Linked DNA regions of Homo sapiens. The protein of the gene in region 6 purifies or fractionates together with the protein of the main gene of each other region. This does not show direct contact. Each region holds a gene or a part of one and is shown on either strand. Other genes may lie near its edges. The genes, in order: CNTN1, GNAO1, CCNY, EFNA5, PALM3, GJB7 and PAG1.

Region 1 (3,500 bases), on a different chromosome or scaffold from region 6:
ATCCATAACTTTTCTTAAACTTTAAGAGAAAAGTAATCCTGTAATTATTTGACAAAAGTAATCATTTCTAATGAAAAAATCGATAACTTTTTTAAAAATTATTTTATGGGTAAATAATTTCTACAGTTTATCCAGTTATTAGATATATTTCTTTGATATCTAGCTTCTATATGGGTTCAAAGGAAATAACATTAGATACTTCTGAAAGGAGGCAGAAGAAAGTATTACTTTAGCGTATTCTAGGCCACATAGTAACTATTTTTATCCAGCAAAATTATATTCCTCTCCAACTGCTTTAAGAATGGCTCAGAAGAAGTTTGAAATCATGCAAACAGAAGTAAAACAGGAAATAAATGATAAAAATTATAGTGACAAATACTTCCAAATGGAGACCACTTTTATATTTTGAAAGTAAGTCTGCTTCAAAGTTTTTGGGATTTTTAAATTTTTTATTTTTTATTTTTTTTAGTCAATGTAAAACAATTTTGGGCAATGAAGTAAGACTTTGATTCGCTTTTGGCATCTTTAGTCATTCCTGCCCTGTATGCTTTACTATATTCTAAGGCTGATAAAAGGGTAGATATCATTAAGAAACATTTGAAAATATGATGATCAGCCAACACCAATGGTAATAGAACCAGTTGAAGAGAACTTTTCATAGCTGAAGACTCTAAATCATGGCAAAATATAACTCATCCTGAATGTTTGCAGATTCGGTATTGGGCTGCCCATGACAAAGAAGAAGCTGCAAACAGAGTTCAAGTCACCAGCCAAGAGTACTCGGCCAGGCTCGAGAACCTTCTGCCAGACACCCAGTATTTTATAGAAGTCGGGGCCTGCAATAGTGCAGGGTGTGGACCTCCAAGTGACATGATTGAGGCTTTCACCAAGAAAGCACGTGAGTCTCACGTTTTGTTTTTAGACTTGTCAAAAACTACCACTGGATTCAATCATGATACGAATATATTTGAAGGAAATTTCCTACCTAGCTACCTGAGCACATTTTTCAATATCCTTTACAGCCACACAAGATTTCCCTTAAAACGTGAATTATTGTAGATGATGAAAAAATGTGAAAAATACCCTCACACGTTAAATATTCCATTATAGAAATAAAGTTAGAGAACTATCCTTTTGTAAAGGCTGTCCTCTCAAATTCTGTGCCATTAACTTGTCTTTACCCTGTACTTATTAATTTAAACATTGTTTTCATAGGAGTACATCAACAGCATGTGAAAACTAAAATTCTGCTTATTTTTACATGCTTTAATTTATAAACCTCTGTCATTGCACAGTGCAATGCAAGTTAAGTGTGTAGCATTATGCTTACTCTCTTATTACTGTATGTTCTAGTACTGTATGTTTTAGGTGGTTCATAAAACAAGACCGCCTATCCCTGCTCACGTTCTGGTCATTCTAATCTCTCTGGGTTCATTTTGATATCTCTGTTCTTGAACCCAAGTGGAATAAGTAAAAAGGAGAATTTTTATGTAGGACTCTAGGGAATGTCTCAAGAATCTGAAGATGTGATTACCATTAGAGTGTGAAAATTTATGAAATTCACTTTGGGACAGAGACTCTCCCAGTGAGATGACAGAATGTAGTGACAAGAACTAGAATTTGGTGTCTAACATGTGTTTGAGATCTGTCTCTGCCACTTGCTAGATGTATGACAATAGATAAATTACCTATTTAAACCTCAGTTTTCTAATTTGTAAAAGGAGCATTCATTTTTGTTCTTTTTCCATTTGTTCATGTATTTATTCATTCATCAAAAATATGCTGTGTGCTCAGCACTATTCTTGATGGTGAGGATACAAAAGGGATCAAACCAGTCCAAGGTGCTATTCTCGCATGGTTTACAAGCTAATGAAATGAGATAGAAACTTCAAACAAACACAAACTCTGACAAATAAATAAGTGGGATTAAAGCAGCTGACAGGGCAATAAAATGAATAAATAGACAAAAGTAAAGTGACTTAGATAAAAGTGAAATTCTGATTGGGTGGCCAGGAAAGGCCTCTGAGAAGATGCCAGTTAAGCTATGATTTGAGTGATAAATGATAAGAAGAACCCACTATGTGAATAGCTTTAGGCAGAGCCTTAAGGTTCTTTGCACTCTAAGTAGTACAAAACCTTAAGGTGAAGAGCACTTAAAATATTTTAGGTGTGGAAAGGCCACTGGGTCCAGGGCATAGGTTCTGAGTAAGGAGGGGGAAGTGTTCTGGGGCCCAATTACGGAGAACCTTGTAAGTAATTGTGATGAGTTTGAGTTCTTTCTAAACATGATAAGAAGCCATTGAAAGATTTTAAAACAGAGAGTGATATCTAATTTATGATGTTGTTTTTAAAAAAGTCATTCTGGCATCTGTACAGAAAATGGATTGTGGTGGGTTAACAGTGGAAGCAGAAAAGCCAGTTAGGAGACTATTTCAGCAGTCAAGGAGAGAATTGATAGTGGCTAGCACTAAGTGAAAATGGAGACAGAAGTGGAAAGTTTTCTGTAGGCAGAGTTGACAACTTGCTGCCAATTTGGATGTTGGCAATGAGTGGGATGAGAGACTAAATACCAAATTTCTGCTTGAGAAACTAGGGGGTTGGTTGTGCCATTTGCTGACGATGGCAAAGAGTCATTGGAGAAAGATTTGAGGATACTCGACATTATATTACATTTGAAAAATGTATTACATTTGATTATATTACATTTGAGAAATCTTTTAGAGACTCAAGTAGAAATAGGCTGATATCTGCCTAGACAGAGAGACCTATAGCCACATATGTCTAGAGGTTGAAAGAGAGATTAGGGCTAGAGACAGAACTGTGAATATTTAAAGCCATGGGCCTAAGTGTCAGTACTTAGGGAAGATCCACAGAGAGAGTAGAAAAGGTACATAGATGAAGTCCTAAATCATCCAACAGTTACAAGTTGACAGAGGGAGCCAGCTAAGCATGAATAATGGGAAGCAGCAGCCCATGAGGTAGAAGGAAAACCCAGTTGTTAAGATCTGAATTTAAGAAAAAATGAGAGATTCAAGAAAGAAGATGGTCAATTCTGTGAAATGCTCCAAAAATGTTAAATTTAAAAAAGAATAATCAAGTGACATTAGATTTAACCAAGTGGAGGTGATTGATGACCTTGCAAATAGCAATTTCAAAAGACTAGTGGAGAAAGAAACCCAAGTGGAGCATGATGAGAAGAGAATAAAAGTCATATTACCTAGCTCACAGGGCCATGGGGTACATTAAATGGACTCATGGATGTAAAGTGCTTAGCATAGTGCCTGGCATATAGTAAACACTTATTAAAACTAGATGGTGGTGGTCATTATCATCAGCATTATAATACCTGATGCAATAGAGTATGCAGAATTGAGATTGGATATAGTGACCACTGATTGCATATTACTACTTTTCACAGCTCCTAGCCAGCCTCCAAGGATCATCAGTTCAGTAAGGTCTGGTTCACGCTATATAATCACCTGGGATCATGTCGTTGCACT
Region 2 (3,500 bases), on a different chromosome or scaffold from region 6:
GAATACATCTTGATCTGAAAGACAACAGAAAAGCTGGTGAAGGGGTGATTCCAAACTGAAAAAAACAAAACAAAACAAAAAAAACCACATTTTGGAAAGAGTTACCCTCAGAATTGACACTAATAGAGAAAACTTTTGATTCTGAAAAAAGAAAGTGTGCCTGTTTGTACATACCCACAGAGTGTGGGTTTACAAATGGCAGATGTTGAGAAGAGCACTCACCTCACTTTCTTACTGATTGCATCATCTTAAAAAGCTTGAAGATGCTCAAATGAACTCCATCCTAAGAATTTCTTCAAATCTGTGTCACATTCTTATTTTCTTCCATCCCTCTCATTCACACACAGCATTGGTAGAAAGGAAGCTGTCCAACAGATCTGTGATTAGCACTGAGGGGAAGGAGAGGAGAGAGCAGTGGCTTGTTAACTGGTTCAGATAAATAGGTAGTTTCTTGTGTTTAGAGAAGCAGTTTAGCATGCTTCTCTAAAATTGAGAGTTGGTTAAGAGCATAGACTCTGCAAACAGGCTGCCTGGCTTCAAATCTTGGCTCTACTGCTAACTAAATATGTGACCTTACACAAGGCCCATAACATTTGGTGCCTCAGTTTCCTTACCTGTAAAATGGGACTGATAATGAAAATAACTACTAATAGGATTGTGGAGAGCATGAAATGAGTTAACATATGAAATGTGCTTTGAGTAGTGTCTAGAATGTAGAAATCATTATACAAATGTTAGCTCTAGTTTTTATTCCTTTGATTAGTGGGTGTTCCCTTCCCATGTGGAGTTCTCTTGTCAAGTAAGTATGTGGGACTTAGCCACCCTGAGAAGCAGAAGGGGGGTGCTGTGGTTCATGTTCATGGCTTCTTCCCCTTGCCTGCTCTGCAGCACCAGTTATATAACAAACTGTGTTGTCATAACTGATGTGACATTTTTGATGGCGCAGCTGCTTCAGCCCAAGAGCTGGGGTGACATTTCAAAGGGTGGGAAAGAGCACTGAACCAGGAGTCCAGGTCAGTAGCTCTGCCTCTGCCCCTCCGAGGGCTCGGTTTCCTGAAAGAGTTGGACCAGGGCTACCCCAGGCTCCCTTCCTGTTGTCAACGGTGTATGAAATTGGGAATTCCCTTTGTTTTCAGGGTCTTGATGTTCTCAATATTAAAGCATGAATTATGGTTTTATCCCATGGGGGTGTAGGGTATCCATGAAAGTTCTTTTAAGACTAAGTTAATTGCAGAATAGCAACCTCAGCCACAGAGCTTTGTCAGCCAGGAAATTTGTAGTTCTGAGAGTCAATTTGAGAAAAACACCTCTAACCAAACTTTTCATGCAGACATGGTTCTTAAACCAAAGAGGAGGATCTGAAAGTATCTCATTAGTAAGAAACAGGATGTTTCTGGGAGGAGAGAGCCAGTGACATTAGAAGAGAAGTGGTTTTTCCGTGGCTTCCAGGATGCTCAGAAGTGGAGACAGCCCTAGCGTTCACCAGAAATGGCTGCATATGAAGAAACTTGCCTGGGTTAAGGTGCCTAAAACCCAGGGAGCAGAGAGATTTGCAGACTAGTAAAAGGGGAGGCTCAGGAGAACTGTATTTTAATTTTGATTCACTCTCTCATTTAACTTTGGGCAGATCATTTGGCCACCCTGGGCCTCAATTTGTTCATCTGTTAATTGGGATGTGGGTTTTCACCATAGAATTTCTCAGGGCTCTTTCGGGTTTCCAGCTCTAAGATGCAGTAAATGCAAAGAGAAACTTAGAAGCCTGAAAGGCGGTGGGGAATAGTGGGAGTATTTACCACCCACAGCTTTTATCTGCTGAGCCATCTTTAGTTCTAATTTTCTTTACAGAGAAGAGGAAAAACATTGTGCTTTTCATAGCACCAAAAAATTAAAGTAAAATAAAATCTTGCAAGGCTAATAGTTGGTGCCCTGAATTTGGCCCCTTACTCTCTTGATTTGTCAACCATCCTAGAAATAAGTAGAATGGAGAAAAGAGAAAGGGAGAATAATACATAAGACTAGGATTTCATAGCTAACAATTTACCTTGGATTCTCTGCCTGTGTCTTAGCCAACAGATAGGTTTTCTGTAGAATATTGTTACTTATGAGAATAGCTTCTCCATGCTTTAAAATTGATCCTGGGGTCACCTGACCCCAGGGTCTCAGAGCACTAATGCATATTGCACATTGTGAATTAATTAGGTGTTTATTTGTCTGTATCCCTTGCTAGCCTGGGTGTCCCTTCCCACCAGGGCTCCCTGAAGCAAGGATGTTACTTATTTTTGCTCATAGTACAGCACCATGCCCAATGCCTGGCACAAAGGAGGTCTTAATAAACGTTAGTTAAAGAAAAGGAAGAATACGAGGTATATAAGGAATGAACCTTATTATTCTCCATAAACCAAAATAATCATGTTGAAAGCTTTTGGTGGCCATGGAATGTGTTCATCATTTTCAATCTATTATATTCATTTGTTTATCAACCTGTGAGCAAATATAGTCATCAATTCCATTTTACAGATGAGGAAGTGAGGTTCAAAGAAGTAAGGTGGCTTGCTCAAGGCCACACAGCTTAGTAGGTGACAGTGTTGTATTCAGACAATGATTTGTCTAATTCTAAAACCTGTGTTCTTTTCGTTGTAACTCCACACCTTTCTTACTAGACCACCCCCAGTATGGGCAGTAGAGACCTGGCAGTCTACGACCTCACACCCAGATGTTGATGGTGCCAGCTGTGGTTGAGGTCAGTGGCTGAGAGAATAGAAAGTGCCTAATTGGTGCTGAGTTCCTTCTGGAGGTGGTAGTAATGGTCATCATATATCACATTGATTTGGATACCAGAGTATTCCCTAGCAACCATCTGGACAGGCCTTGAAATGATTTTTCATTACCGCCTCAAAAATGGGGGCCATTTTCAGATTGCAACAGAGAGAAGGCTCTGGCTTTGGTGGAGGCAGGTGTCTTGGAGAACTATGGAAAGACAGGATGGTAGGGGATCCATCCATCTGTCCATCCATAAGCATTTATGATTGCCTATTTTGTGGGTAGCATACACACAGTGTCATGGAAGTAGAGAGGAAGGCCTCAGTCCTTGTCCTGAAGGAACTCATGGTCTGGAGGGAGCTACACAAAAAAGACTCTTGCACTTCAGGTAGGAAGGGCCACAATGTCTGTATACACAGTGTGCTATGGTAGAACAGAAGGCACCTTCTCTAGGCAGGAAGTTCAGGGAAGACAGCCAAGAGACAATGGCATGTGAACTGAGCCTTTAAAACAAGTGGTAGTTCACCAGGTCGAAAAAAAGGAATGCCAGGCAGAGGGACTGGCATGTGTAAAGGCATTAAGATGTCACCACATGGAACATGCTAGGAGTGTAAAATAGTTTGATTTGACTAGAGCAAAATATGTAAGAGGAGTGTTAAGAAATGAGGAATGAAAGATTGGACAGAAACCAGATCATGAAAGGCCTTATCTATTGTGCTAAGGACTTTGGATTTTATTCT
Region 3 (3,500 bases), on a different chromosome or scaffold from region 6:
TAGGTTATTAGTAAACATTTTAAAACTACATTTTAAGAATCATTGACTCTAGTATATATCAAAAGCTGAAGTACTCAAATACCATATTTTTTATGTCCTGAAAAACATCCCACCCAGCTGGTTTAGAAAGGTTTGAAGTTCATGGGTCTTCTATGATAGGTTAGTGTCTTTAAATCACAGAGATATGACATATGTATCCATGCTTTCTTCCCTTTGTCACCAGGCACATGAAGGGGTAATACTTGTCCTGTAGAATTTCAGTAATTTTAGTGTCTGGGAACTTAGGTGTCTATGGTGCTTAATGGCAACTTAATGTGTCTTTTTGCTCAGTTTATCTTAGTGTTAGGTTATTCATGTTTTTGAAATTGATATTGGACTCATGCTTTCCAGGTATTATTTCTTATAAAATCATTCAGAGATTGAGAAAAAACAGCAACACATAACAACAATAGTAATCTTCAGAACAATTCTTTAGGAAAATAAAAAAATGATAGTAATAATTGCAGCCTATGTATTACTTACTCTGTAGCAGCTGTCACCAGCTGCCGCTCTAAGTACTTGGATTCCATTCATTTACTTAGAACTCACAGTAACCCTATGGGTAATATTACCCTTACTTTAAGACAAAGAAATGAGTCACTGAGAGGAGAAATGACTTGTCCAAAGTCACACAGCCAATACATGGCAAATGGAAACTTTCCATTGTTGCTTGACTTAGCCATCAAACGTTAGCTAGTCTGGGGTTGCCTTCTGGGATAGGGTGTCTTGTCATTGCAGTCATATCCATACTTTCTCAAGGATAAACTTCTTCTGTCTGCAGCAGTTATTCAGTCCAGACTTCCAGGATTAGATTATTTCTGTGGGAGGAGAAAGGGAGGGAGGGACTAAAGAGAATTTAAAATGTGAGGAGACCAAATAAATCAGGATACTTGTAACAGCTGTACCATAGTGTCCTTGTAGGGTTTTACCTTAAAATGGTTGATGGCAACTTCATTCTTTTTTTTTTTTTTTTTTGAGATGGAGTTTTGCTCTGTCACCCAGGCTGGAGTGCAGTGGCATAATCTTGGTTCACTGCAACCTCCACCTCCCGGGTTCAAGCAGTTCTCCTGCCTCAGCGTCCCAAGTAGCTGGGATTACAGGCATGCGCCACCACGCCTGGCTAATTTTGTATTTTTAGTAGAGATGGGGTTTCTCCATATTTGTTATACTGGTCTCGAACTCCTGACCTCAAGTGATCTGCCCGCCTCAGTCTCCCAAAGTGCTGGGATTACAGGGGTGAGCCACTGCTCCTGGCCCACTCTTTTCATTTTTATAGTTTACCTGTCATCCTTGACAACTCACTTTCTCCCTCGTCCTGTATCATATCTGGTAGGAAAATGTGGCTCTCTGCCCTCAGAATATATCAGACTTTGACCACTCTCAAGACCTCTGCTGCTGCTCTTCTGGAGATTTAAGCAGCTGCCATCTCCCCCAGCCCACCTGGTCTCCCTGCTTCCACCCTTGCCTGCTCCAGTCTGTTCTCGACACAACAGCCATGGCTAAGATCCTTTAAAAAACTTGAACTTATTCCTTCACTCAAAAACGGCAGTGACTCGTTATTGCACAAGTAAAAGCCTTACAGTGGTCGCTGGGGCCCCTTGGGATCTGCCTGCCATCAGCTCACTCAGTCGCTTGCTCATTCCAGCCACATTGGCCTCCTTCCTTGCCCTTCCTGGAACATACCAGACACAAACTTCCACCCCGTTCTCTCCCTCTGCCTGAAGTGTCCTCCATGTGCTCTCTTGGCTGAGTCCCTTTATCACCTGCAGCCTTGGTTCAAGCCTGACCTTTTCAGGGAGGCCTTCCCAATCACCTTTAAACATCCTTTCTGCCGCCCACTGGCAATCCCAATGCATATTCCCTGCACTCCTGTTTCTTTATTCCTTAACACTTTATGATATACTATATAAGTATAAACATAAATACTAGCTACTAGCTACTAGCATGTAAGTTCCAATAGAACATTTATTGTTTGGTTCACTGATGTAACCAAGTGCCTAGAGTAGCACCTGATTCCTTGAAGATACTATAAATATTTGTTGAATGAATTTGTTGAGTGAAACCAACCATTGAAGGATGTGAATGAAAACATCATCGCGTATGTTTATTGGGTGAGGGGAAACAGGAGGCAAGGAGAATGAAGAGGACTTGTAATAATGAAAGTAGCGTGGATGTGAAACTTTTTGGCTTTGTAGTTTAACCTGAGAGGTAGCAGATAGGGTGAAGTACTGAAAATGAAACTTAAAGGTTTTAAAGCTTAAAAAGAAAAAAAGCATACCCAGGCTGAAAGGAAACCTGGCTAATGGGAATCTGTTTAATAATGTGGTATGTTTAGTCTTTTTTCCTTGTTTCTTTCAACGAATGACTTTAGCTGTGGCCTTACATCCTTAAGGATCAAATTGAGACTCAAATGCTCAATTAACCAAAAAATACTAGATGAACATCTGCAATTATGAACATAGTCACTTATGTTGATTTTCTTGTCTGAAACATGAAGTGTCTAATGGGATATAGGTACATGGTGTTTTGGCTGTCTACAGCCAGAGAAGCTAGAAGCCTCAGGGACTCATCCCAAGCAGCGGAGGGATAACTGGCAAAACTGCTTGCCGTTAGAAGAGTGGGGACACAGGGCAATTTGAAATCTAAGTGCCTGTAGGATGAGCTTGCATATTGCTCTTGGCTTCCTTGAGTCTCTACAATCTATTTAACATCACCTCTGCAGCACTCTTTCTTGAATCTTGGTCCCACATTAACATTACCAGCCCTGGTGGGCAGAACATACCGTGGACTTTCTTTCCAGGCTAAGACTTATCAGCCCTGCTGTCTGCAAGGTATGTGGAGACACCCCGACCAAGCATGTGACTTCATATTAGTTAGCAGTGTGGAGAAGTGCAGTTTAAAGATTTGTCAAGAGAGCCATTCTCCATAGCACTGACCATGGGTCCATGACCTGTCTCTGCTTACTTTTCATGTTTCTCTTTCACTTAGAATCAGGGAGTCGTTTGCTTCCACACACCCATTTTACAGGTGGGAAGACTGAATCTCAGAGAGGTGTAGTTTCTTGCCCAGGTCATGCAGATCATGGATGATGGTAGTAGAATTTACTTTGTTAATTTTCGGCCAACAACCGTGCTAATTACTTGACCTGTATTGTTTTTCTTAGTCTTCTTATCATTCTCCCCATTTTCTAGGTGAAGAAATTGAGCCTTAAAGGTTAAGGCATTTGCGGAAGGTTCCTCAGTTTGTTAGTGGCAGCTGGGGTTCGGTCTGCTGTCAGCTTGCCTCCATGCCTCAACTGCCCTGTGACAGCTAATTAGAGAATGATCCGTGTCTAGAATCTGAACCTCCTGATGGCCTGGCCCAGCCCACTTTGTTTCAAGAGATTCATAGTTATTGCCTATATGCTTTTGTCTAGCAATATTTTGTGTAAGGACTTTTACTTTCCTGCCTGCCTTTTTTTT
Region 4 (3,500 bases), on a different chromosome or scaffold from region 6:
TCTGCATTTTCCCTAAAAATGTACCTTTAACTAGGATTTATTGAACATCTACTAAGCAAGGTATTGACCTGGACCACTGTACGGATGTTATCTTTTACCCTAATGCTGCAGACCCTCAGATAAAATATAATAAAATTAGGATATTAAAGCTCCAAGAATTTCTGAAGTCAATTATAATTACATTATTTTACAGATGTAGAGTTCAAACTCCAGATGGATGAAATGATTCTCTCAAGATCATACAGCTAGTTAGGTCAAGAAAAGGACCTGGGACTCAGTTTTCCTTACTTTATAAAAGCATATATTCAAATCAGTGTTTTATGGAATTACAAAGATAACTTATTAAAAGGATTTCCCTTTACCCCTTCTGATGTAAAAATAACTGCAAAACTTCTATCAAACATATTCTCATTAGGTTAATATTTAAGAGTATCATTTCTAAATTGAGTATTTTTTAAGTTTCTAAAAGGAGTATTAAAAAAAAAAAAAAGACAGGGTTTTGCTATGTTGCCCAGGCTGGTCTTGATTTTTTTGGCTCAAACAATCCTCCTACCTCAGCCTCCCAAACAGCTGGGACTACAGGCATGTGCTACCATATCCAGCTAAAATGAGTATTTTTGAATTTTTTAAAATTACTGTTTCCTTTAGGAAGTCTATATAAACAACTATTGTCTTAATCAATTGACTGGCAGTTCTGCAAATCTATCATTGATATAAATACCGCCAACTTTCTGTAATTACTTTAGTATGCCAATCTCTTACCAAAATAACTCCTGTAGATTAAAAACAGTATTTGTCAGATTCAGAGATGGCCCCAGTCTACCTCAGCAATAATCAGCAATTATAACAACTTAATATACTGTCTGTTCCCAAGGAAAGGAGAATATAGCATAGTTATTCTTGGGAGTTAAAATAAAGGGACTAGAACTGCAAAGCATGTTTTATTTTTAAAGTAAATTGGAAACTTCATTTAGGATATTTTCAACTACCACATTTTCTTAATTTTATAAAACTCAAAGACATTAAGAAAAAAAGAAATCTGGTTGAGGATAAGGCAAATGTTGATAAGAATCTTCTGACTCATGTCCTCTCTAAGTAATGAGGTGAATAGCTTGTTATGAAATCCTTGTCTTCCCTTCCTCCAAATCTGTGTTTGTATCTGAATTTTGGCACTCCACAGTCTTCACTATACTTAAGCCTACTCCTAGCACCATAAAGCAGGATGGCCAAAAAGCTATAGCTTTCTTTTTTCTTTCTTTCATTTTTTTTTTTTTTTTTTTTTTTTTTGAGACGGAGTCTCACTCTGTCACCCAGGCTGGAGTGCAGTGGCTCAATCTCGGCTCACTGCAACCTCTGCCACCCTGGTTCAAGTGATTCTCCTGCCTCAGCCTCCCAAGTAGCTGAGATTACAGGCTCCTGCCACCATGCCCAGCTAATTTTTGTATTTTTTTTTTTTTTTTAGTAGCGATGGGGTTTCACTCTCTTGGCCAGGCTGGTCTTGAATTCCTGACCTCATGATCCACCCGCCTCGGCCTCCCAAAGTGCTAGGATTACAGATGTGAGCCACTGTGCACAGCCAGCTTTCTTTTTTCTAGGGAAAGTAAGAAGAGATTTTAAGGCTATGAGGAGCTAAGAGGTACTGCTGTCCTAGCAAGAACATTCTGTAAAATTGACTGGTGGGCAGTGAAGCTTGTTCCTGAGATCAGCAATAGAGCATCTTGTAACGTAGTAAGTGTGAAAATAGCTATTTCCCAATCATCTTGTTCATTCCACACACATTAGGGAAGAGGAAAATTCAACTGAGGGCCAATTCTCCCCTAAGAATCCTTTAGTTTAATTATGACCACAGTACATTAAACGTCTGTAAGACAACCATGTTAGCTCTGCTGCTCCTGACTGCAGTGGTGGAAGAGAAGAAACCCTTTCATTACTAAAAAGACAGGGAAGGATGCCTTTGCGGGTCGAAAACATGGTTGAAAATTCAATTTAACTGAACACCAAGCCACTGTGCTTCTTGTTAATGAACATCTTTTTGCTGCTAATTTTGTGCTATTTTACCTTTCATTAAAAAAAGTAATTCAAGTTAAACTCAGCTGAACAGCAAAAAGCTCTTCATATTTTGAAGCATTTTGGAACAATTACTTTGACGGAAGCCCTTGACAGTTAAATGACTCCGTTAAATGAATGTTATAGAAGTCACATAATGATTTTTAGTGAAATATTGAATTTAACCACAAATGAGGAAAAACCAGTCATAAGCGCTATGGGTATATTTGAATAATAACATCTTGCTTATGAAGCTGAATGAATTCTATAATTTCTAATAATCAGGCAATCAACTAGTTAGTTAGTGGGTATGTTCCTCATCTTGGTGCTCTCTATTCATTTTTGATTTTTGCTTTTGCTGTTGTTTTTTTAATCTGAGAAGCCAGTAAGAAAATTTCAAAACTAGCAAGAATTTTCTCTTACATTGGTATAGTATTTTACAGTGAGACAACTAATGAGTTGCTGTCCCACAAATGAAGTCCTCCTCTTTCCTTTTTCTCATATGCTGAATGAGATTCTTTCACAAAGTAAAAAAGCAATAAAAGTCAAGAACATGCTGCCTGAGAAGTGTGAATTCACTGTATGCCAGTGCTTCCTGCATCTGTGGGACTCAATATTCCTTTTCTTGTTTTATGGATCAAATGTGAGATAGTATCAAGGCTTTTGCATGTTTTCTCATGACTAATGACTGAAATATGTACTGAAATAATAAAACTGGTACTGTTCAATTTCCTTTTTAAATTCAATTCCAATATAAGTGACAGTTATCATTGTGATGGTGAAATCTGACTTATTATAAAATTCTGTTTTCTGGAGAAGGAGAGGAGCTAGAAATCCCTGTAGACTTAAACCGTGTAAGTTGTGAGTGGGTAGGGACATTTGGACTGAAGAAATGAGTCAGAAAAAAGAATGTTCTTGTTTGTCTGGCAAGCTGGGGTGAAAGTCGATGCTAAGCATACTGAGTGGTATAACTTGGATCTCTACCCACTGTGTGTGGTTGCATTTCCTGATTCTTCCAAGCAGGTGAGGCACAACTTTCTCCATGTTCTCACTACTCCCTGAATTTATCTTCATCATCAGCAATTGTCGACTTATACTTTAATTGCCTATTTACATGTCTGCTCCCCAGTGAAAGGTCACTCCCTAAGAACAGGGAATATCTTTTCATCTTGCATCCCCCAGCATTTCTCAGCTCAGATTAAGCTGTCCAATAAATGTATTTTTTAACAAGTAAACTTTTAACCTCTTCAGTTGACAGTGAGAATACATGGGAAAGGCCAGATAGTTTAAATATAAATACTAGTTAAAGTCCAGATACACAACAAGCTGCTTAAAGTAGCTACCACCTATAATCTTGCTACTCAAAGTGTGGTCCACAGTTCAGTAGCAGCAGCAGCATCTGGGAGCTTCATACATCCAGAATTTCAGGCCCTGCCTTAAGACCTCCTGAGTCA
Region 5 (4,157 bases), on a different chromosome or scaffold from region 6:
CCCCTTTGCACCTGGGAAGAGTCTGGGCGGGGGGCGAGGGTCTTGGGAGGGGAACTGAGCAGTGACCACGACTGGTGAGGCTAAAGCCCTCCCTAAATCTGGCTTTGTCTCTCTCAGCCTCAGTTTCCTCATCTGTAAGATGGGCAGGAATAGCTTGACCACCCTGTCCTTGCCACCCCCGATCTCAGAGGACGCTTGCAAGGAGCTATTCATGCAGGGAAAAGCTTAGGGTACAGTGCTACAAAAATAGTCCCATTGTTTATGAATAATCATAATTTATATAATTCCATGATGAATAATATGTATGATTAATTATAATAACCATCTCCAGTCCAACCTGCAGAAACTCTCAAATGCCACCAGGCCCCTAACAGGCTGTGTGCCTCTTTCTCTTCCCAGTCCCACACCCTCTCTGGACCTCAGCTCCTACCCAGAATTTCTCAAGCGCTGGGGGGGCAAGCGAGTCTGTGGCCCTCCCACTGTTGCCATGGTAACCCCAGAGCTGCCTCCTCCACCTGCTAACCCCCCTCCCTGGGGACAAGGATCACTGGGTCACTCTGCCTAGGACTGGACTCTGAGCTGGGAGGAGGGGGACTTGCCATTTAAGGTTTAACTCGAGATTCCCCTGTCATTGTCTTCCTCAAAACATCTCTACTTCTCAGCCTCCAGAGTGGCCTCTGGACCCACTTAGGCTCCCGTGGAAGCTGGAGGGTGACTGTCATACTGCAGGATGATTAGGGACAGTCAGTGTCACACCAACCTTATCAACACAGACATGCATTGGGCACCCCTGACTATGTTGCTATGTTGACCACGTGTCACAGGCCAGTATCTAGAAAGCGATGTCTCTCTGCCTGTCATCTCCACCGGCATGGACGGGCGCTGATCAAACCCTCAAACATTTATTAATTTGAACAGTCACCCTACTGGGTAAGCCTCATTGCCTGAACTCCAGCTAGGACCTTCCAGATCTTCTGTGGCCACAACGTGAAGGCTATTAGCACTTATAGTGCTATATATATGATATATATATACTATATATAGCATATAGTGTTCTAAGTGCCCCACGGGGTTTCCGCTAGGTTCCCACAGCCACCTCTGCCTCCCCCTCCCTGCCTCTATCATGACACAGTGGAGTCAACTCTTTGCTGAGTTGACATTCCAGCTAAGAACAAAATCAGCCAACCATTAGCTAGCCCGTAACACGTGCCAGGTGCAATGTAATTCACTGAATCCTCCCAACGACTCTAGGAGGTAAGCTATATGAATGTGTCCATTTTATGGATGGGAAAACTGAGGTTCTGAGAAGTGGCAGCAGTGTCCAAGGTCATGGAGCCAAGATCAGAACTTGAAGCTATCAGATCCAAAATACTGAGAACACAGCTGGCGAGGGGGGTGGGGGTGCAGGTCTAGGAATCCCCATCAAGGTAGCTAAGAGAGCAGCCTGGAGACCCTGAATGCTGTTTGGGGCAAGGAATTGAAGTCATGCTCTTTCTTTTTTTGAGTCGGAGTCTCGCTCTGTCACCCAGGCTGGAGTGCAATGGCTCAATCTCAGCTCACTGCAACCCCCGCTTCCTGGGTTCAAGTGATTCTCCTGCCTCAGCCTCCTGAGTAGCTGAGATTACAGGCGTGCACCACCAAGCCCGGCTAATTTTTGTATTTTTAGTACAGATGGGGTTTCACCATACTGGCCAGGCTGGTCTCGAACTCCTGACCTCAGGTGATCTGCCCGCCTCGGCCTCCCAAAGTGCTGGGATTACAGGCGTGAGCCACCGTGCCCGGCCACGAAGTCATGCTTTGCAAGATATCCCAAAGGAAGCCCAGATTCTGTGCTTATAGGTTTGCCCCTGGGGGAGGGCTGAAGTCCCGTGGTCTCCTGTACCACCCCCAAGATGTAATCTCCCTGCCTCTTCCTTGCTGGGGGGGATCGGGTTCCCATTGCTAAGCAACCAGGTTTGTAGTTGGTGAATAATGCAATGGAGGACCTAGAAGGGTGAGGAACCGAATTGGGGTCCCTAGTGTGGGGGGAAGCCCCTTTTCCAAAACTCTTTCCAAACCTCTGAAGCCCCCTCTACCCTTTTAACCTTAAAAAACTCTCACCCCTCAGCTATGAAAAGACTTCACACACCCCATTCCATCTTGCTTATCTCTAACTAACTCTGGAAGAACAACGTAGGCGGCCTGGGCTTCTGGCCACCCGCAAGAGTTGGTGGCCATTTCATGAAGGAGGTCATCCTTGCAATGTTGCCATTGTCTTTCTCAGGCTGGGAGCTTTTAACTTCTGTTGGATCTCAAGCCTTTTCTCCCACCTTGGACACTGACTTTAGGGGCAAAACGTGGAACCCAGTGACCCTGACCTTCCCCACTCCCTGCACCACAGCAGTAGCCCCACCCCCTGGCTGGACTTTGGGTTCTCAGCCCTGGCAGCGGAAAATCCCCGAAGAGGAAGGGGCAGGGGGAGCCTATATCTCTCTCCCACCCCTTGACTCTTTAAGGAAGGGTGACACTGATGAGCCTATGGGGTTGGCTAGCCAACCCCTCCACTCCCCGGGTCCCCTTAGGAGAGACCACTGGAGCTCTCGGCTCCCAGACAAGGCCAGCATCCCCCATGAGCCCCTCCCAAGGCCCTGCCCACCAGCCCCCCTGACCCCCCAGACACTTACATGGGTGTGGCCAGAGACCACACCTGGCTCTGCAGGGCCATCTCTGCCCAGAAGTTCACTTTCTGGTCTCCGAGTTCTGGACCCACCACCCGCTTGCCTGAAGGTGCCCCGGAGGCTGTGACTTGGCTGCCTGGAGTGGGGGGGGGCTGCGGGCGGGCACCGGGAGAGCAGGTCCAGCGGGTTTGGGCCAGGGAGGCGGTAGGCACACCAGAGAGGGGGGCTGGGGGCTGGAGGGCAGTTCTGGGGAGGTACTATCAGCTGTCCTGATAAATTATTCACCAGCCTCTGGCCTCTTTGTTGCACTCAGCTGCCTCCCGGAAAACACTTTCACACACGCGTGGTCAAGCGTGGGGGTGAGAGTACTGAGTCGGTGACTCCCCCTGCCACCAGAGAATGGCATTTCTACTTGGCACCCCAATCATCTTGAGTCTGACTGCCTGCCAAGACTCACCCACAGGAGAGCACCATTGCATAGCACACAGGCTGGAGACTGTTTTATTTTTTTAGAGATGGGGGTCTCACTCTGTTGCCCAGGCTAAAATGTAGTAGTGCGATCATAGCTCACTGCAGTTTCAGACTCCGGGGCGCAAACAATCCTCCCTCCTCGGCTTCTCAAAGTGCTGGGATTACAGGCATGAGCCACCACATCTGGCAGATAACATTTTTTAAAATTATTTTTTAAGAACAGGCACAGTGGTGCATATGTGTAATCCTAGCACTTTGGGAGGCCCAGGTGGGTGGATCACCTGAGGGCGGAGTTCGAGACTGGTCTGACCAACATGGTGAAACCCCGTCTCTGCTAAATACAAAAAAAAACTTAGCCGGGCATGGTGGTGCATGCCTGTAACCTCCGCTACTTGGGAGGCTGAGGCAGAAGAATCACTTGAACCCAGGTGGCAGAGGTTGCAGTTAGCCAAGATCGCACCATTGCACTCCAGCCTGGGCAACAAGAGCAAAACTCTGTCTAAAAAAAAAAAAATTACTTTTTGAGCCAGGCACGGTGGCTCACGCCTGTAATCCCAGCACTTTGGGAGGCCGAGGTGGGCGGATCACGAGGTCAGGAGTTTGAGACCAGCCTGGCCAACATGGAGAAAGCCTGCCTCTGCTAAAGATACACATTAGCCAGGTGTGGTGGCACACCTGTAGTCCTAGCTACTCGGGAGGTTGAGGCAGGAGAATTGCTTGTACCCAGGAGGCGGAGATTGCAGGGAGCTGAGATCATGCCACTGCACTCCAGCCTGGGTGACGGAGCAAGACTCCGTCTGAAAAAAAAAAATTACTTTTTGATCGTGGTAAAATACACATAACAAAATTTACCATTAGTGGCATTTAGTATGTTCACAATATTATGCAATCCTCACCACTGGTTCAGAATATTTTCATCAACCCAAAAGGAAGTGATCACTACTCATTCCCCTGCCTCCCGTGCCTGGCAACCACCAATCTGTGTCCATCTCTATGGATTTGCCTATTCTGGACTTTTTGTTTTTCTTT
Region 6 (4,057 bases):
CACCGAGAGTCAGGACTAGTCATTTTTGAATGATTTTCCCTTCTTTAGCAAAATTCTTGCTCAGGGAGTTATTCCAGAATACTTGACTACCTATTAATATATTGTACATGCAAATTAGACTAAGATATAAAGAATATAAGAATTACTTTGAGGGAAACACTTAATCTTCAAACATACATTTTAGAAATAAGCACCTCAATAGAAGACAAAACAAAATGACCAGAATCATAAAATGTTAACGAGCAGGAACCTTATTAATAATGAAAGCATTTCCTTTAAAAGACAGAGAATTATAAAATGGGCAAAATATTTTAATGAAAGTATAATACACTTTTTTATAGTTTCACATGCCACATTATCTTAATACTTAAGAAACTAACTTGAACTTTGGGGCAGAAAACCTTAAAAATAATTTAAATTAGTTTAAACAAGTTTGGGATAGAATCAGAGGACTTCATGGCTTGAGGGGAAACATAGCATAACCTCAGATTCTCACTTTGCTACTTATAAGCTGTGTGTCTTTAAGTGACAACTCTGATTCTCAGTTTCTACCTTTATAAAAGGAGCAATACTATCTATTGCATAGATAGGTACTAAATGTGTGCATTAATTAAGATGACACATTTTAAAAGATGCAGATGTTCAATGAATGGTAGCTACTTTCATACTCACCATTTAGTCTAACTCCCCCTTCTAAACCCCTTTCTGAGAAACCCAGACCCAAGGAGATGTCCTTACCAGGAGGGTGCGATCACCTAGGTCTCCCAATTACCAGCCCACCAATATTTCACCACCTCACCCCATCTTACTCTTGAATTGATAAAAGGCCTTTGCATGTATATTACAATATTTAAGAAAAAAAATTATAATCACTTAAGTTTTAAAAATTGATTATATATATGTTGTTTTTAAGGTAAAACATACTTTCTAAAAAAGTATCTTTCCTGCCGGGCAGGGTGGCTCACGCCTGCAATCCCAGCACTCTGGGAGGCCGAAGCGGGTAGATTGCTTGAGGTCAGGATCACTTGAGGTCAGGAGTTTGAAACTAGCGTAGCCAATATGGTGAAACCCCGTCTCTACTAAAAATACAAAAATTAGCTGGGTGTGGTGGTGCGGGCCTGTAATCCCAGCTCCTCGGGAGGCTGAGGCAGAATAATCGCCTGAACCCAGGAGGTGAAGGTTGCAGTGAGCCGAGATCGTGCCACTGCACTCCAGCCTGGGCGACAGAGCGAAACTCTGTCTAAAAACAAAACAAGAGGGGAGGAGCCAAGATGGCTGAATAGGAACAGCTCCGGTCTACAGCTCCCAGAGTGAGCAACGCAGAAGATGGGTGATTTCTGCATTTCCAGTCGAGGTACCGGGTTCATCTCACTAGGGAGTGCCAGACACTGGGCGCAGGTAAGTGGGTGCGCGCACCATGTGAGAGCCGAAGCAGGGCGAGGCATTGCCTCACTCGGGAAGTGCAAGGGGTCAGGGAGTTCCCTCTCCTAGTCAAAGAAAAGGGTGACAGACGGCACATGGAAAATCGGGTCACTCCCACCCGAATCCTGCGCTTTTCCGACGGGCTTAAAAAATGGCGCACCACGAGATTATATCCCGCACGTGGTTCGGAGGGTCCTACGCCCACGGAGTCTGGCTGATTGCTAGCACAGCAGTCTGAGATCAAACTGCAAGGCGGCAGTGAGGCTGGGGGAGGGGCGCCCGCCATTGCCCAGGCTTGCTTAGGTAAACAAAGCAGCTGGGAAGCTCGAACTGGGTGGAGCCCACCACAGCTCAAGGAGGCCTGCCTGCCTCTGTAGGCTCCACCTCTGGGGGCAGGGCACAGACAAACAAAAAGACAGCAGTATCCTCTGCAGACTTAAATGTCCCTGTCTGACAGCTTTGAAGAGAGCAGTGGTTCTCCCAGCACGCAGCTGGAGATCTGAGAACAGGCAGACTGCCTCCTCAAGTGGGTCCCTGACCCCTGACCCCCGAGCAGCCTAACTGGGAGGCAGCCTCCAGCAGGGGCAGACTGATACCTCACACGGCCGGGTACTCCAACAGACCTGAAGCTTACGGTCCTGTCTGTTAGAAGGAAAACTAACAAACAGAAAGGACATCCACACCAAAAACCCATCTGTACATCACCATCAACAAAGACAAAAAGTAGATAAAACCACAAAGATGGGGAAAAAACAGAGCAGAAAAACTGGAAACTCTAAAAAGCAGAGTGCCTCTCCTCCTCCAAAGGAACGCAGTTCCTCACGAGCAACGGAACAAAGTTGGACGGAGAATGACTTTGACGAGCTGAGAGAAGGCTTCACACGATCAAATTATTCCGAGCTACGGGAGGAAATTCAAACCAAAGGCAAAGAAGTTGAAAACTTTGAAAAAAGTTTAGAAGAATGTATAACTAGAATAACCAATACTGAGAAGTGCTTAAAGGAGCTGATGGAGCTGAAAACCAAGGCTCAAGAACTACGTGAAGAATGCAGAAGCCTCAGGAGCTGATGCGATCAACTGGAAGAAAGGGTATCAGTGATGGAAGATGAAGTGAATGAAATGAAGCGAGAAGGGAAGTTTAGAGAAAAAAGAATAAAAAGAAACAAGCAAAGCCTCCAAGAAATATGGGACTATGTGAAAAGACCAAATCTACGTCTGATTGGTGTACCTGAAAGTGACGGGGAGAATGGAACCAAGTTGGAAAACACTCTGCAGGATATTATCCAGGAGAACTTCCCCAATCTAGCAAGGCAGGCCAACATTCAGATTCAGGAAATACAGAGAACGCCACAAAGATACTCCTCGAGAAGAGCAACTCCAAGACACATAATTGTCAGATTCACCAAAGTTGAAATGAAGGAAAAAATGTTAAGGGCAGCCAGAGAGAAAGGTCGGGTTACCCACAAAGGGAAGCCCATCAGACTAACAGCGGATCTCTTGGCAGAAACTCTACAAGCCAGAAGAGAGTGGGGGCCAATATTCAACATTCTTAAAGAAAAGAATTTTCAACCCAGAATTTCATATCCAGCCAAACTAAGCTTCATAAGTGAAGGAGAAATAAAATACTTTACAGACAAGCAAATGCTGAGAGATTTTGTGACCAGCAGGCCTGCCCTAAAAGAGCTCCTGAAGGAAGCACTAAACATGGAAAGGAACAACCTGTACCATCCATTGCCAAAATGTAAAGACCATTGAGACTAGGAAGAAACTGTATCAACTAACGAGCAAAATAACGAGCTAACATAATGACAGGATCAAATTCACACATAACAATATTACCTTTAAATGTAAATGGACTAAATGCTCCAATTAAAAGACACAGACTGGCAAATTGGATAAAGAGTCAAGACCCATCAGTGTGCTGTATTCAGGAAACCCATCTCACGTGCAGAGACACACATAGGCTCAAAATAAAAGGATGGAGGAACATCTACCAAGCAAATGGAAAACAAAAAAAAGCAGGGGTTGCAATCCTAGTCTCTGATAAAACAGACTTTTAACCAACAAAGATCAAAAGACACAAAGAAGGCCATTACATAATGGTAAAGGGATCAATTCAACAAGAAGAGCTAACTATCCTAAATATATATGCACCCAATACAGGAGCACCCAGATTCATAAAGCAAGTCCTGAGTGACCTACAAAGAGACTTAAACTCCCACAAATTAATAATGGGAGACTTTAACACCCCACTGTCAACATTAGACAGATCAACGAGACAGAAAGTCAACAAGGATACCCAGGAATTGAACTCAGCTCTGCACCAAGCAGACCTAATAGACATCTACAGAACTCTCCACCCCAAATCAACAGAATATACATTTTTTTCAGCACCACACCACACCTATTCCAAAATTGACCACATACTTGGAAGTAAAGCTCTCCTCAGCAAATGTAAAAGAACAGAAATTATAACAAACTATCTCTCAGACCACAGTGCAATCAAACTAGAACTCAGGATTAAGAATCTCACTCAAAACCACTCAACTACATGGAAACTGAACAACCTGCTCCTGAATGACTACTGGGTACATAACGAACTGAAGGCAGAAATAAAGATGTTCTTTGAAACCAA
Region 7 (3,500 bases), on a different chromosome or scaffold from region 6:
AGCCAGGACGAAGCCAAGACAACGTGACTCCCAAGTAGCAGGAGCAGAGGTCGGTCACCTGTGGCATTCTGTTTCATTCCCTTTTAAAATTATGAGACTTTATAGGCAGTGTAAAACATCAGCAGGCAGCGATGTGATAGGATGTGCGAAAAAGCTGGTCTGATACCATGGCTATAATTACAGAGCTTTAGTTCAATTAGGATTTTGTAAATGAGCAAATGACCTTTTTTTCCAGTGCCCCTTGTAATAGTTAATATGAGTCCATGCAATCTTGTGATGCCATTCTCCTGAAGGTGTTGATTTCTGGTACCCAGCCAGCTTAGCTTTGGCTGCTGGAAGCACAGTAGGTACTGATGATTACTTCCTGGAAATCTTGACAGGCTTATTGTACTGTGTAATGGGGAAAAGTTAAAGTATAATGTTTGGTGTTAATAAATGACTGATGTGAAAATAGGAACATGTGTCTTTAATATCAAATATGGCTTTATTTGCAGTGAAATCTAAATTCCTTATTCTACAGTAGTATTTTCTTGCCCTGTGTTGTATATTTTCCTAAATACATTTTTCCTGACAGTGGCTTTAGGCCAGTTGAACACACTTAGACTGAAAGTGTTTAACTTAAAGAGATCAGTCCAGAAACCATGATAAATTAGAATCTTTATCTGGAATTACCAAATTAAAATTTAAAATCATGGTCCAGAAGAGAACAAACATTCATGGTTTTTTTTATCCTACTGCTCATTTTTAGGTCTGTGTTTACATCTAGTCTCTACTATTTGTGAAGTATGTCATTATTTTTTTCAAGTTCTTCTTTGACTTAACTGAAAAATAATATTCCAAATTCTTAATGTAACATGAAAAGAGAAATACAATTTTTGCTTAAAAGACATTTTTTAAAAAGCGTTCAATTCAGTAATCATTTCTGTTAATACAGGAAGTTTTTTTGGCTTGCCAGTTATATACTGTGGGTATTTTTTAAAATGTGCTACCCTTGGGTTGTCTCATATCACCTTGCGTAATCATGTATTACAAAGGTTGATAATTGTCATTTCTCAGATGTCTGTATGTTACATTGGCAGCAGTAAAATGTTTTAATGTTGTTACCTTTTAAATAATTGTGTTGTATTAACATGCCTCATATTTTCTGGGGAAACTTGAAATATATCTAAACAAAAAAGGTCTGTTATAAATAGGAATTGGCATTTCATTGTTAATGTTTTTTCCTCATAAAAATAGTTACACCAAAAGTGACATATTGTCTATTACATGGGCCCAATCAGTATTAAAGTACTCCCCTTACTCAAAAATATTAAAAAATAATTCATGACACTTAGTAGCATTTTCATTGATTGTTTCAAAAGATCTTCATAATGGTCAAATTGTCCAATTCACAAAAGAGTGAGAAAGTTGTTTTCAGTACTGGGAATTTTTAAACCTTAGTTTTAAGACCAAAAATATCTCTTATTAGCTTGAACATTTTGTGATTACTTTTCCCTCCCCGGATCTAGTCCTTTTAAGGAGTAAGTCTAAAGAATGAGGCCATGAAGTCACTATTTCCTCCCACCTCAGTTTGTCTCCTGGTACTTAGCTGGCCTATCGCTTTGTGTGGCAATACCCCTGGGTCGCTTCCCCACTCAGCCTTCTGTATCTGCTGTTCACAGGACATGCCATTATGTCTTTCCAGTACGGATCACAGTGCTGCCATATCACAGACCCTGCCAGCCGGCACAGAACCATGCCTCGTCACAGCTCTGCCCAACTCACAGGCTGCCAAGATGAGGCCACAGGTCCACCTAGGGCGGCAGATGCTGGTGCTATTTGTCACGACTTTTGCCAAAACATGTACACTGTTGCTCACATCTTTCGTAAGAATGGTTGACACTAAGGGGCCATGGAAAAGCACTTTTAAAAAATTATGTGGTGGAATCAAACTCACAGAGGCAGAAATGTTAGTGCCGTGCTCTAACCAAGTAAGCTTAGTGTTCCCCACAGTGATCTGTATCTGGCCTGAGTCTCCTCAAGCAGCAACCCCCACTGTCCAGCATGTGGAAGGTAGATCCTTATGACAACACCAGACCCATAGTTACCAGGAAAGAAAAAGGAAGCTGAGTGTTGTGAAGGGGAAGAAATCCTTTTTATAAGAAGTAATCATTTTTAGGCCGGGTGCAGTGGCTCATGCCTGTAATCCCAGCACTTTGGGAGGCTGAGACAGGTGGATCACTTGAGGTCAGGAGTTTGAGACCTGCCTGGCCAACATGATGAAACCCTGTCTCTACTAAAAATGCAAAAAAAATTAGCCAGGCATGGTGGCATGTGCCTGTAGTCCCAACTACTCAGGAGGCTGAGGCAGGAGAATCACTTGAACCTGGGAGGCAGAGGTTGCAATGAGCTGAGATCGCAACACTGCACTCCAGCCTGGGCGACAGAGCAAGACTCCATCTCAAAAACAAAAACAAAAAAAAAACCTTTTTAAAGTAAATTGAGTGTAAAATGTTTTCACCATGAAGCCATTGCACCCTCTCCCCCAGGAAACAGTGCCTAAGGATGATGTCAAGTTACAGCCAGTTTGCTCTGATCCCCCAGGACCTAAGAAAACTGTGAGTGCTTCAGCATGCAAAGGTAGAGCTACCAGATAAGGAGAATAACTTGGCCATTTATAGCAAACTGCCTGACTTTGGAGTGAGAAACCAAGCACCTTCTAGGTCCTAGGATAGGTGAATTGGAGGTGCAGCTGCTGAAGTTCCCATTTTCTACATACTTCAGGAGCCAGGGTGTTTCATTTGGTTTTGTAAAACTTTGCTGTAAGTCATCACAGTTAATTCTTTGAATGGACATTTTAGAGTGTAACTTTTTTTCAAAATTAGCAGAACAGATATCTCTGCTCATTCTCTTTATACATTTAGTTTTTTAAAGTTCCCCTAGTATACCTGTTAGGCACTCTAAATAGGACACAGTTAAAGCTAAAAGAAGGACCAGTTGCTCCCTAGAGCCTACAGTTCAGAACTATCTTGTTGTCATGTCCTGGTTTGGTTTGGTTTGTTTTTAACTCAACAAGTTGGAAACCATGAGTTTAAAGCAAACTATTTCCTTTTCTTAAGCTTAAAGAGAATTTTTTTTTTAATCTTTAGCTCCTCATTTAGGTAGTGAAGGCTTCCCTGAAAGACAGCAGTGCCCTTCTCTGGAAGAAGAGGCTGGGACCAAAAGCCTGAGTCTATGGGTTGAGGATTTTGAGCATTCCTTTGACAAGCTTCTATGTATTTTTAATATAAGACTCATAAATGAACCTGATGTGGTGTTCATGACCCATCCCTTAAGCATGCTTGCTTTTTTTAACTTTACTTTTTGAGTATAGTACTTGTCTTGTTTTTCCTGGAGCCATGCTAGGATTTAATTCCTATGTGCCACTACCCGCCCATGTCCTGGAAGATGGCCATGCCTGCAGCAATGCTCATGTCTTGAGGAGAAGCAATGTGAAAAGCATCAGGAAAGCTGAACCTTAC

The links.
Region 1: the proteins of GJB7 (region 6) and CNTN1 purify together in Homo sapiens (affinity purification with mass spectrometry; 2 studies listed by BioGRID and IntAct, with this or other methods). This does not show direct contact.
Region 2: the proteins of GJB7 (region 6) and GNAO1 purify together in Homo sapiens (affinity purification with mass spectrometry; 2 studies listed by BioGRID and IntAct, with this or other methods). This does not show direct contact.
Region 3: the proteins of GJB7 (region 6) and CCNY purify together in Homo sapiens (affinity purification with mass spectrometry; 2 studies listed by BioGRID and IntAct, with this or other methods). This does not show direct contact.
Region 4: the proteins of GJB7 (region 6) and EFNA5 purify together in Homo sapiens (affinity purification with mass spectrometry; 2 studies listed by BioGRID and IntAct, with this or other methods). This does not show direct contact.
Region 5: the proteins of GJB7 (region 6) and PALM3 purify together in Homo sapiens (affinity purification with mass spectrometry; 2 studies listed by BioGRID and IntAct, with this or other methods). This does not show direct contact.
Region 7: the proteins of GJB7 (region 6) and PAG1 purify together in Homo sapiens (affinity purification with mass spectrometry; 2 studies listed by BioGRID and IntAct, with this or other methods). This does not show direct contact.

Annotation. Positions count from the first base shown.
Region 1 is NC_000012.12:41,024,439-41,027,938, forward strand, and holds part of CNTN1 (contactin-1 isoform 1 precursor), read left to right. Parts: intron 1-711; coding exon 712-898; intron 899-3,418; coding exon 3,419-3,500. UniProt on the Homo sapiens protein: Contactins mediate cell surface interactions during nervous system development.
Region 2 is NC_000016.10:56,197,989-56,201,488, forward strand, and holds part of GNAO1 (guanine nucleotide-binding protein G(o) subunit alpha), read left to right. Parts: intron 1-3,500. UniProt on the Homo sapiens protein: Guanine nucleotide-binding proteins (G proteins) function as transducers downstream of G protein-coupled receptors (GPCRs) in numerous signaling cascades.
Region 3 is NC_000010.11:35,339,509-35,343,008, forward strand, and holds part of CCNY (cyclin-Y), read left to right. Parts: intron 1-3,500. UniProt on the Homo sapiens protein: Positive regulatory subunit of the cyclin-dependent kinases CDK14/PFTK1 and CDK16.
Region 4 is NC_000005.10:107,422,938-107,426,437, forward strand, and holds part of EFNA5 (ephrin-A5 isoform 1 precursor), read right to left. Parts: intron 1-3,500. UniProt on the Homo sapiens protein: Cell surface GPI-bound ligand for Eph receptors, a family of receptor tyrosine kinases which are crucial for migration, repulsion and adhesion during neuronal, vascular and epithelial development.
Region 5 is NC_000019.10:14,059,277-14,063,433, forward strand, and holds the start of PALM3 (paralemmin-3), read right to left. Parts: upstream 2,801-4,157; 5' UTR 2,705-2,800; coding exon 2,664-2,704; intron 1-2,663. UniProt on the Homo sapiens protein: ATP-binding protein, which may act as a adapter in the Toll-like receptor (TLR) signaling.
Region 6 is NC_000006.12:87,326,479-87,330,535, reverse strand, and holds the start of GJB7 (gap junction beta-7 protein), read left to right. Parts: upstream 1-1,257; 5' UTR 1,258-1,398; intron 1,399-4,057.
Region 7 is NC_000008.11:80,969,069-80,972,568, reverse strand, and holds part of PAG1 (phosphoprotein associated with glycosphingolipid-enriched microdomains 1), read left to right. Parts: 3' UTR 1-3,500. UniProt on the Homo sapiens protein: Negatively regulates TCR (T-cell antigen receptor)-mediated signaling in T-cells and FCER1 (high affinity immunoglobulin epsilon receptor)-mediated signaling in mast cells.